Homo sapiens: one gene and its partners. The protein of the gene in region 3 interacts with the protein of the main gene of each other region in a biochemical or structural test. Each region holds a gene or a part of one and is shown on either strand. Other genes may lie near its edges. The genes, in order: CTH, PCNA and RAD18.

Region 1 (3,756 bases), on a different chromosome or scaffold from region 3:
AAATAAAAAATGAGTCAGGCGCAGTGGCAGGCGCCTGTAATCCCAGCTACTTAGGAGGCTGAGGCCGGAGAATCGCTTGAACCCGGGAGGCGGAGGTTGCAGTGAGCCGAGATCGCACCACTGCACTCCAGCCTGGGTGACAGAGTAAGACTCTCTCTGAAAAATAAAAAAAAAAAAAAAAGAAAGAAAGAAAGAGAGGCTGTGTACATATTTTGATTCTAAAATACAGTAAAGAGTATTCTAAACCAGTTGTAGAAATGGCCTTAGAACTGTATCTCACAAAACAAGGGACTGTCTGTAAGGATTTTCCTCAACTTATATAACACACTGAAGTGGTTTCCAAAGCATAATCAAGGCTTTGGACTTACAGACTTTAACTAATTCTTACAAATCTCAGCAACTTTTAAATTCTCTAAGATCCATCAAGTATGCCACCAAAAGGGGGAAAAAAGCTATGTGATTAACAAAGAGGGCTCCTTCGTAGGCTTTACAGATCATTCATGTATGACTCTGTGTCAGTTCCTTTTCTATAAAAAGTACATAATACCTGTCCTGCCTTCTGACCTGGTTGTTGTGAGGATCAAATGGAAATAGTGTAAATGTGAACATCATGAAAAAACAAATTACCATCGAGTAATTATTATGTACTATACAGCCTTAAATACATCTCAACAACTTATGTGGTAGATACTATTATTATCCCCATTTATACAGGATCAGTCAGAGGTTTTGATAGGTTAACTAACTTGCCCAAGGTCCCCCAGCTCAGAAGAAGTGGTGTCAGAATGCAAACCTAGCCTTTGACTATAAGATTTGTGTTCTCTTTTTCTGTTGTTGTTTGAGTTGGAGTTTCACTCTTGTCACCCAGGCTGGAGCACAATGGTGAGATCTTGGCTCACTGCAACCTCTGCCTCCTGGGTTCAAGCGATTCTCCTGCCTCAGCTTCCCGAGTAGCTGAGATTACCCGCCACCATGCCCAGCTAATTTATTTATTTTTAGTAGAGATGGGGTTTCACCATGTTGGCCAGGCTGGGCTCGAACTCCTGTCCTCAGGTGATCCACCCGCCTCAGCCTCCCAAAGTGCTGGGATTACAGGCGTAAGCCACTGCACCCGGTCATGAGTTGTGTTCTTAATCACTAAGCCACAGTGCTTAAATGACGCAATAGGCTAAATTGTTACTAGCATTATTAGAGATAGCATAGTGTAGCTGAGTGCCTAGGAGTTGGTTCCTAAAGCAACCTCAAGTTTCTAAAGTTTGAATTCCATCTCCAATACTTACTAGTCTAAGGCTAGTTACTTAACTCCCTAAATCTCAGCTTCTTTATTGGGAAAAAATGAGAATTCGGTTCAGACTAGGGTTGTTGTTAGGATTAGATGAGACAATACATGTAATACACATGATATATACGAGCACGTATTTGGCATATAGTAGGTACTCAATAACTATTCATACAGCTACTGGAAACAATCTTAATTCTAGTCAAGTTATCAGACCCTTAATATTTTTTAAGCTGACTCCGTACTACATCTTTAAAATTTATGCTGCTAAAGGTAACTCAAAAAAGTTATGACCTTCGATTTTTAATTGCAAATTTGTCAAAATCACCTGAATTTCAGGCCAAATCTAAATGGCAAGCTGGACAAACGGCTCCTTCCAGTCCTGCTTATCAAAAGAAATACGATCACTGGACCATCCGATACAAAGCTGTGCTGCAAGAATTACAGTGTAGAAACATCTTTCGGTTGCCTTCCTAATTTATAAGTCATATTATAAATTACTTACATGCCTTTCAAATTCATAAGCCGTATCTCTTTTACCGCCCAACTGTGGACAGCCCCAGACAGACCCAGCTCACCGAGTGCTGGCCAGGCGCCCCTTGCTTGAACGTGGTGGACAGTGAGATGGGGGGCACTACAGCCCTGGAGGTCCATTGCTCTGGATCCTGGCCCACATGGATCGCCTGCGTGGCGAAATGTTGGAAGTGTGGCAGGAAACCTTGTGAGGAGGCGTCTTTTTCCTGCATGCTGAACCGCGAAAGAAGAAGAGAGGAAAAGAACACCGAAGATATAACCAGTCGAAGCCGGGTGTCCGGGGTTGGGAGAGACAGAAGGATCAGGCGAGAAGGAGCTAAAGCACGCAGGTAGAGCCGACGGCGAGCGCACTAAAGCGGCACACAGCGATTGTTGGGGTGGATTTTATTAGCGGGTCTGCAGTCTCACGATCACAGTGGGGCGGGACCAGCGCGGCCCATTGAGCGCAGGCCCGACGCGTCTCCCGCTCCTTATTGGCTGACAGCAGAGGCGTTGCCTGAAACGTCACCGCGACCGCCCCACCCAGTGCACAAAGCGGAGTGAAGCTGGAGTCCCTGGGTCCAAGTGGTGTTAGTCCCTGCGGGCGAAATTCCTGAGTACCCGTCCTGAGGAGGCTGCCATGCTGGCTCCTGAGAGCCACCCGGGCGTCTCTGTGACCTCAGGCCGGAGGTTCGCCCGAGACGTGGCGGAAAGCTGGCTTAGTGTTGAAACCGGGTAACTGTAAACAGACCACATAAATAGCCTTCTTTTACTGTGGTAGTTACCTCTGACCACCATCCTTTGCCCTGAGGGCGGTGCTAAAAGACGTAAGCCACAACGTGGAGGGTGGTTAAGAAAACAGTTGCCCAAGCCGCCCAGTTTGCAGCTTGGATTCTCATCAGTCACAGCTTGCGTTTTAGGTACACTGAACTCTGTAATGACCCAGTGCTTACGATGACGAAACGATGACTAGAAGTGAAGGTTAAATTGTTCGTAAGACATAACGAAGCTACTGTAGTGAGGACGTCTATGCACAACTCTGGCAGCTTCCTAAAAGTTAGTCAATCTTGAGCTTTTTCAAGCATCATTATCTTCTTTTAAAGTACAGAGAGAAACTCCCCCTAATGAGAAAGATAATGTGGCTTTGAAATACTTACTGGAGCCTAACATCCTTACACAAAATGCTTTTGCTTTTACACAACAGCAACATCCCTGCAGGAAAAAGGATTGTTTACCACTCACCTGCGCCCAGAGCCCTACTCTCAGAAGAATCACTGCTTTAAAACAAAAATCTCCCTGTTCCCTAAGCAATACAGACTTGACCTACTTACTATTGTGGCTGTTTTCTAGCACCAGGAAATTTGGGGATATTTCTGTTGTTGCAAAATATTCGCTAAAGATCTAAAACTTTATTAAACAAATTAAGAACAAGGAGAATAAGGAATAAACAGCTCTTAAAATTTACAGTTTGAAAGAAAGATATGAAGAGAAAGAATGAGGCAATTTGCTTTTCAAATTAGCTTTAGGGACATTTAACCCATTAAGCACTAGAGGAGTGGTGCTTGAGGGCCTACAAGCTTTTAGAATCCTACCAAACTTTGTATGGCTGGGGGAAAAAATGGATAGACTTCAAAACACTAATGTATATTAATACATATTTAATTAATATTTTTCTTTTAAAAATATAACATCAACTGCAACTCACCTCAATATTTATGTATAACTATAGGTGGGTATTTTTGTGTAATATGATATGGCATTTAGGGGCCAAAAGGGTCTAAAACAGTTCCAATTAGTTTTACCTCCTAATATTTGCTGACAAACCCTGAGTTGCATAAATACAGACATTTTATTTAGTGTACTGTAATAAAGAATCATTCAGAAGACAGCACTAGGCTGGGTGCATTGGCTAACGCCTATTAATCCCAGCACTTTGGGAGGCCGAGGTGGGCGAATCACCTGAA
Region 2 (2,662 bases), on a different chromosome or scaffold from region 3:
TTTAGTTGATCCGCCTACCTCCCAAAGTGCTGGGATTACAGGTGTGAGGCACCGTGCCTGGCAAAAAATTCTTAATACACAGCACACAGTGAACTTGTAGCTATTAGTGGGAATGTTTTTAAGTCTTTCTTCACAACTTCAGGGCTTTTTCACTTTCTTGGTTGGATCCAACATCCGTGGAATTTAAGACATCTTCATCCTTTGAGTGAAGTTGCAAAGTGTACTTATACTAGAGAAATTTTGTACAACCATACTCCTTGGGCCCCATTACAGCTCTACTGAAACATCCAAGACTCTTGTAAGATTCCCCAGGCTAAAAAGAAACACTCCATTAACATCTTATAAAGCCCACACGACTTTCGGTACATTAAGCTTCTGAAGAGTATTAATTTTTGCCAAGTAAAATGAAATACACAGGATTTGTACTACTCTCTCACTTGTTCCTTGAGCTCAAATTGGAATAACAAGTTTGACAAGTGAATCCCCTAAAATATCTAGTAACCTACTGTATTTGAAATCCTTTTGATCTCCATCAGGCTGCTCTAAACTGAAAAACCATTTAAACGAAAGGGTAGCTGTAGCTGGGAATTCAGTAGGATACTTCCAACAGTCCTGGTCAAAATGAAGACACTGCCCTGTGATGTTTGAAATTCAAGTAACTTTATTTAAATTCAAAAACAATTCTTAAAACTGCATTTAGAGTCAAGACCCTTTTGTATTATAAAAATCACAAGTATTTCTAAGAGACAAAAATACTTCTAGGTTAACTAGACCAGATCTGACTTTGGACTTTATTCTTTAAACAAATTGCAGAGAATAGAGAAAAAAATAGGTTATTTACAGAAAACAATATCTACATATGTACTTAGAGGTACAAATTTGGTGACAGAAAAGACTTCAGTATATGCTGGCATCTTAGAAGCAGTTCTCAAAGAGCTTAGTTTTATTTTCTTGAATTTTAAGAATGCCTAAGATCCTTCTTCATCCTCGATCTTGGGAGCCAAGTAGTATTTTAAGTGTCCCATATCCGCAATTTTATACTCTACAACTGAAAGACAGGAAGATGGTTAATTACTGAGGAGTATGTATCACATATGACTACCTACAAAACAAGGTTCAAATTTATTATCTTACCAAGGGGTACATCTGCAGACATACTGAGTGTCACCGTTGAAGAGAGTGGAGTGGCTTTTGTAAAGAAGTTCAGGTACCTCAGTGCAAAAGTTAGTTGAACTGGTTCATTCATCTCTATGGTAACCTACAAAACAAAAGATTCATCATTGAAAAACATCAAGAAAGTTGCAATCTATTAGCTCATTATATATTTATAAAAACCCACAAACACTTGTATTGGTCACTTTGGAGGGAGCTATGAAAATTTTGAAGACTGATACATAAAGCAAAAGACTCGATTATCTAGCTTGTCTTTCCTATAGCTATAATTTAGATAACCAAATTATATAATATGGGAAAGCTTTTCTTTATGGAAGTTTTTCTAATAAGCAGCCAATAAGTGAATAAAACGTATTAATTTCAGCTCTGCAAACTCTAATTAATGACTTAATGGATCTAGACAATGACTATTATAGCTGCTAACATTGCAAACACATCCAGACACCCTGTGCCTCCTACTAGAGGCACACACCACCACCTATATTCTTGCTCTCTCACCCCCGAAACAAAACACCCTGAATATCAAGGCTCCAGGGCTATAGCTACCAGTCTGTAGGACACACAGGGTAGAGGAATTTATGTATACACAGGAATGCAATCAGCAAAATCCAAACTCTGGAAAACTTAATAAATGATCTAATTTCTTCAACAAATAGATTGTAATGGAAGGGGGAAAATGAAATTAGGGGAAACCAGGCTAGGTGTGTTGGCACACACCTGTAGTCCCGGCTACTTGGGAAACTGAGGCAGGAGGATCACTTAAGCCCTGGAGTTTGAGGCTGTAGTGAACCGACTGCACCACCGCACTCCAGCCTGGGTGGACAGAGCAAGACCCTGTCTCAAAAACAAAGAAAAACAGAAAAAGAAAAAAACGAGGTTGGCAGGAGTGGAAATGTGATTCAGGAAACAGATAAAGAATCAGCTCCTAGACTTTATTAATTTAAAAAAAAACCTTTCAACTGAATTTTACCTTTATTTAAACTAAATGTTGACTACCCATTCAAGGGACAAGAGAGCAATATATAGTATTTATTGTAAGCTTATAATATGCCACACACAGCATATGCTAAGCTCTTTAATGCTACCGTATTTAATCCTAACAAGGTTATGAGGTTAGGACCTTTGTCCTTGATTTACAAAGTTTTAATTTATGCCCAGGTTAGCGAGTTTTTTTTGTTTGTTTAAGATGGAATCTTGCTCTGTCACCCAGGCTGGAGGGGAGTGGCATGATCTGGGCTCACTGCAACCTCCGCCTCCTCGGTTCAAGTCATTCTCCCATCTCAGCATTCCAAGTAGCTGGGATTACAGGTGTGCGCCACCACACCCGGCTAATTTTTATATTTTTAGTAGAGATGGGGTTTTGCCATGTTCTTTCTATTTTGGTTAAACAAGGGCTCTCTAGGTACTCTCAAAGTTGCATGGAGTCTGCTTTCTAGCCTTAGTGAGAAGTCTCCTTCCTGTTTAACCTTTGATTCCTACAGCCTGTGAC
Region 3 (3,656 bases):
CTTATATTGACCTTTCGTCTTCTGACTGCAGTAAATTCACTTTAATTCCAGCATCTTTTTTGTTGATTCCTTAGAAATTTTTGCATACACAATCATGTCATTTGTGGATAAAGACAGTTTTACTCATTCCTTTCTGATCTATATGCCTTTATGTTTCTTTTTGTTACACAGGCTGGTACCTCAACTACAGTGTTGAAAGTGGTGTGGAGGGACATCCTGTCCTTACTCTTAATTTTTTGGGGAAAGCATTCAGTCTTTTACCATTAAGTATGATGTTAGCTGTAAGTTTTTTTTATATTCTTAATATGTTTTCATAAACCTACCAAGTTGAGGCACTTCTCTACCCCTGGTTAGGCGAGAGGATTTTTTTTTTTAAATCATGAATGGGTGTTGAATTTTGTCAAGTATTTTCTGCAGTTATGGAGATGCTCATATGATTTTCTTCCTTTATTTTGTGACATAGCTAATAACGTTGTTTTTGTTTTGTTTTGTTTGGGAGACAGGGCCTCACTCCCTCACAGTGGCTTTGTTACAGACTGGCTTTGTACTGTAGTCCCCCCTTATCTGTGATTTCAGTTACCTGTGGTCAACTGCATTCTGAAAATACTAAATGGGAAATTCTGGAAATAAATAATTCATAAGTTTTAAATTGCACTCTGTTCTAAGTAAAGCACTGATGAAATCTTGTGCCGTCCTGCCCAGGATGGGAATCATCCCTTTGTCAAGTGTGTTGATGTTACATATGCTATCTACCGTTAATCGTTTAGTGACCATCCTGGTTACCAGATTGACTGTTGCAGCATGGCAGTAATTGTCACTGTGTTGCAGAACACAGTAATTGTGTCAAGTAGCGCTTATTTTACTTAATAGTAGCCCCAAAGCACAAGAGTAATGATGCTGGCAATTCGGATATGACAAAGAGAAACCATAAAATGCTTCCTTTAAGTGAAAAGGTGAAAGTTCTTAACAAGGAAAGGAAAGAAAATTGTATGCTGAGGTTGCTAAGATCTACAGTACCATCTACAGTACAGCACAAGATATTTTGAGAGAAAGACCACATTTACATAACTTTTGTTATAGTATATTGTTTTAATTCTATGTTATTGTTATTGTTCCTAATCTCTTACTGTGTCTTATTAATAAATTAAACTTTATCATAGGTAAGTATGTATAGGAAAAAACATAGTATAAATAGGATTCAGTACTACCTGTGGTTTTAGGCATCCACTGCGCTTTATGGAATGTCTCGCCTGTGTATAAGGGGGCACTACCATATAGAGAAAGATCTTTACTAGTCAGCTTGACTGCAGATTCTAGGGGCTTCGTAAGCCTTTTCTGTGGATGTGTCTTCCCTGGACTTGTGATTATAAATTTCCAAGCCGAGAGATTTGGTCAGTTTTTTCATTAGCTGCTGTTTTTCTCTCTCATGTGTCTGTCCATGGTATTGCAGGTTCTCCAGAGTTGCTGTAAGCCATCAGCCTCTTTTTTTGTTTTCAGCTGCCCTCAAGCATCTAAAGTATGCTGATCCAAAGCACCCCAAGTTGAGTGAGACAGAAACCATTCCCTTAGGCAGTCCTTTGAAAAGTTCAAATGTTGGTCACACACTCCACTATTCTCTCCCAGCCTCCCCTCCCAAGATAAGCCGCAGAGCTATATCAGCCTCTGTCTGCTCTATGGGTCCTGTGGATCAGTAGCAAGCAACCCAGCTTTTTTTTATTCTTAGCAGTCCCCAGTCACCTAGAACATGCAGGGTTCATGCTTAGTGGGGTGAGACAGAAGCCAGTCCTCTGGCCAGCTCTTGGAAAAGCTAGAACATTGGACCGTGTTTCCCTTCTTTCTCTCCCCAGGCAGAAAGTTGGGGGTTTCTCTTCCTTGCTGAGCCTGGGGGAGGCACACTGGCCAGTGAGTGTGGTACTAGTCCAGACCTTTGCTTTTGTTCTCAGTGGCCCTCAACCTGGTTCCCTTTTCTGTCAGTGTATAGATTCAGGCAGCTCAGAAACCAGTTTCTCAAGTAGCCCCCGCAATGTAAGTGCTAGTCTTCTGTTTCTCTCCCTAGGGATACATGTTGTTTGCTCACTTCTTCATGACTTATAGCTGTCACTTATGCCATTCTTTAAGAGGAAGTCAGTGGAGGGAAGTTTCAGTAATGATGATTTTTTATTTTATGAGCACTTTTTTTTCACTTGTGAAGTCTCAGTATTCAGTAGGCCTCTTCTACTAAACACCAGTTGTCACAAGTCCCGTCATGTCTAAAATTTGCTCTGGGTCTTTAGTGTTTTAATGACACAAAACCCCCAGGGCTGTAGTGGAAGCCAGGTCTGTCATGTTCTGGTATCATCTTGGATTGACTAGAATTGGTGATCCAGAATCCTAGGTATTTATTGTTGCTTCTTAGATTTTTCATGATTTATCATTTTTAAATCACTTTATTTTGTTTTGTTCTGTTTAGGTTTTTGGATATGAGTAATAAACACTACATTTGTAGTTCTGCAGGTACAAAGGTGTGAGTGGGGTGCCTTGGCAGAATGCAGGTCAATTAAATTGATCCAAATTTGTGCTATTAAAGAGTATTTTGGGGGCGAGAGGGAGCAGACTTACTCCAACCCATAAAACACCATTAAGTGAGAAATGGTCTTGCTAATAGACTAATATGCCCAAGTGCCAATTTTCTTTGCACTTGCTATAATTTTTCTCACTTCATAATGGAAGATGATCAAAATATTTAGCAATTGGCTGGCTTTCAAACATCAAAAGAGTCTAGCATCTTAATAGTAAAAAGGAAATTTCTAAAACTTAAATGAATCCTTGTCATGTGAAATCTTAAGGACTTTATGAAAGAAGGAACTTTTTAGAAAGAAACATCTAAAGTGTCCAGTTAAAAGCAAAAACCAGTGTGAAAAGAACAGGAGGTCCAAGAAAGCTGAAAAGGTTGGCATCTGCCTCCAGTTCTAATGTTAAGGGACAGTTAGTTGGTAAGAGAATAACATCCCTCCAACTAAAGACTAGCATTTCAGAATTTCCAGAAGTGCAGCTCTGCATAATTATATCTCCCTTTTGTGTGTGTAGCTATTTCTCTTCTCCTCTGCCTTGTTTCACAGTGCTACTTCATGAGAATATAAAAGAAGATAAACACGTTTATTATTTGCCTAATAGAATCTTATGTTGTCTCTTGAATTAGCAAAGGTTTCGTAAGGGGAACATTTCATATTTCAGTTTGTTTTAAAAAATGAAATAAAATTGCTTTTTACTTCTACACAAGCTTTGATTAATTTTTTTTGAGTCAAAATCCACAAAAGGAAAAAAAAAAAAGATTGCTGGCCAAGCTTTAAAATAGTGGTAATTTATCAGTGTCCACAAGCCAATTATTTTATCTAGGATCTTGCTTGGGATTAGAGATGCCCCCTCTCCCAAGGCTTGGATATTTCTGTGAAACTACTCTTTAATTCATTGTTGTTATTGTACCTTCCTCCACTCTGCCCACACATCTTTTTTGGGCTCTCTTGGATGGAAAGACAAATTTCATAGGTGATTTAAATGAAGCCCTCTGGGAATACATGAATTCAAAACTCTTCAGCTGTTCTTCTTTGAATGGAAGGGTTGTCATAGTTGCCCACTAGAGAATAAATTATGCTGGTCTGCAGCTTACCAGTACATAT

The links.
Region 1: the proteins of RAD18 (region 3) and CTH form a complex in vitro, tested with the Homo sapiens proteins (one study listed by BioGRID).
Region 2: of the proteins of RAD18 (region 3) and PCNA, one has a biochemical effect on the other in vitro, tested with the Homo sapiens proteins (21 studies listed by BioGRID, with this or other methods).

Annotation. Positions count from the first base shown.
Region 1 is NC_000001.11:70,409,685-70,413,440, reverse strand, and holds the start of CTH (cystathionine gamma-lyase), read right to left. Parts: upstream 2,174-3,756; 5' UTR 2,026-2,173; coding exon 1,858-2,025; intron 1-1,857. UniProt on the Homo sapiens protein: Catalyzes the last step in the trans-sulfuration pathway from L-methionine to L-cysteine in a pyridoxal-5'-phosphate (PLP)-dependent manner, which consists on cleaving the L,L-cystathionine molecule into L-cysteine, ammonia and 2-oxobutanoate.
Region 2 is NC_000020.11:5,114,315-5,116,976, forward strand, and holds the end of PCNA (proliferating cell nuclear antigen), read right to left. Parts: intron 1,259-2,662; coding exon 1,135-1,258; intron 1,049-1,134; coding exon 969-1,048; 3' UTR 639-968; downstream 1-638. UniProt on the Homo sapiens protein: Auxiliary protein of DNA polymerase delta and epsilon, is involved in the control of eukaryotic DNA replication by increasing the polymerase's processibility during elongation of the leading strand.
Region 3 is NC_000003.12:8,953,469-8,957,124, reverse strand, and holds part of RAD18 (E3 ubiquitin-protein ligase RAD18), read left to right. Parts: intron 1-3,656. UniProt on the Homo sapiens protein: E3 ubiquitin-protein ligase involved in postreplication repair of UV-damaged DNA. Postreplication repair functions in gap-filling of a daughter strand on replication of damaged DNA.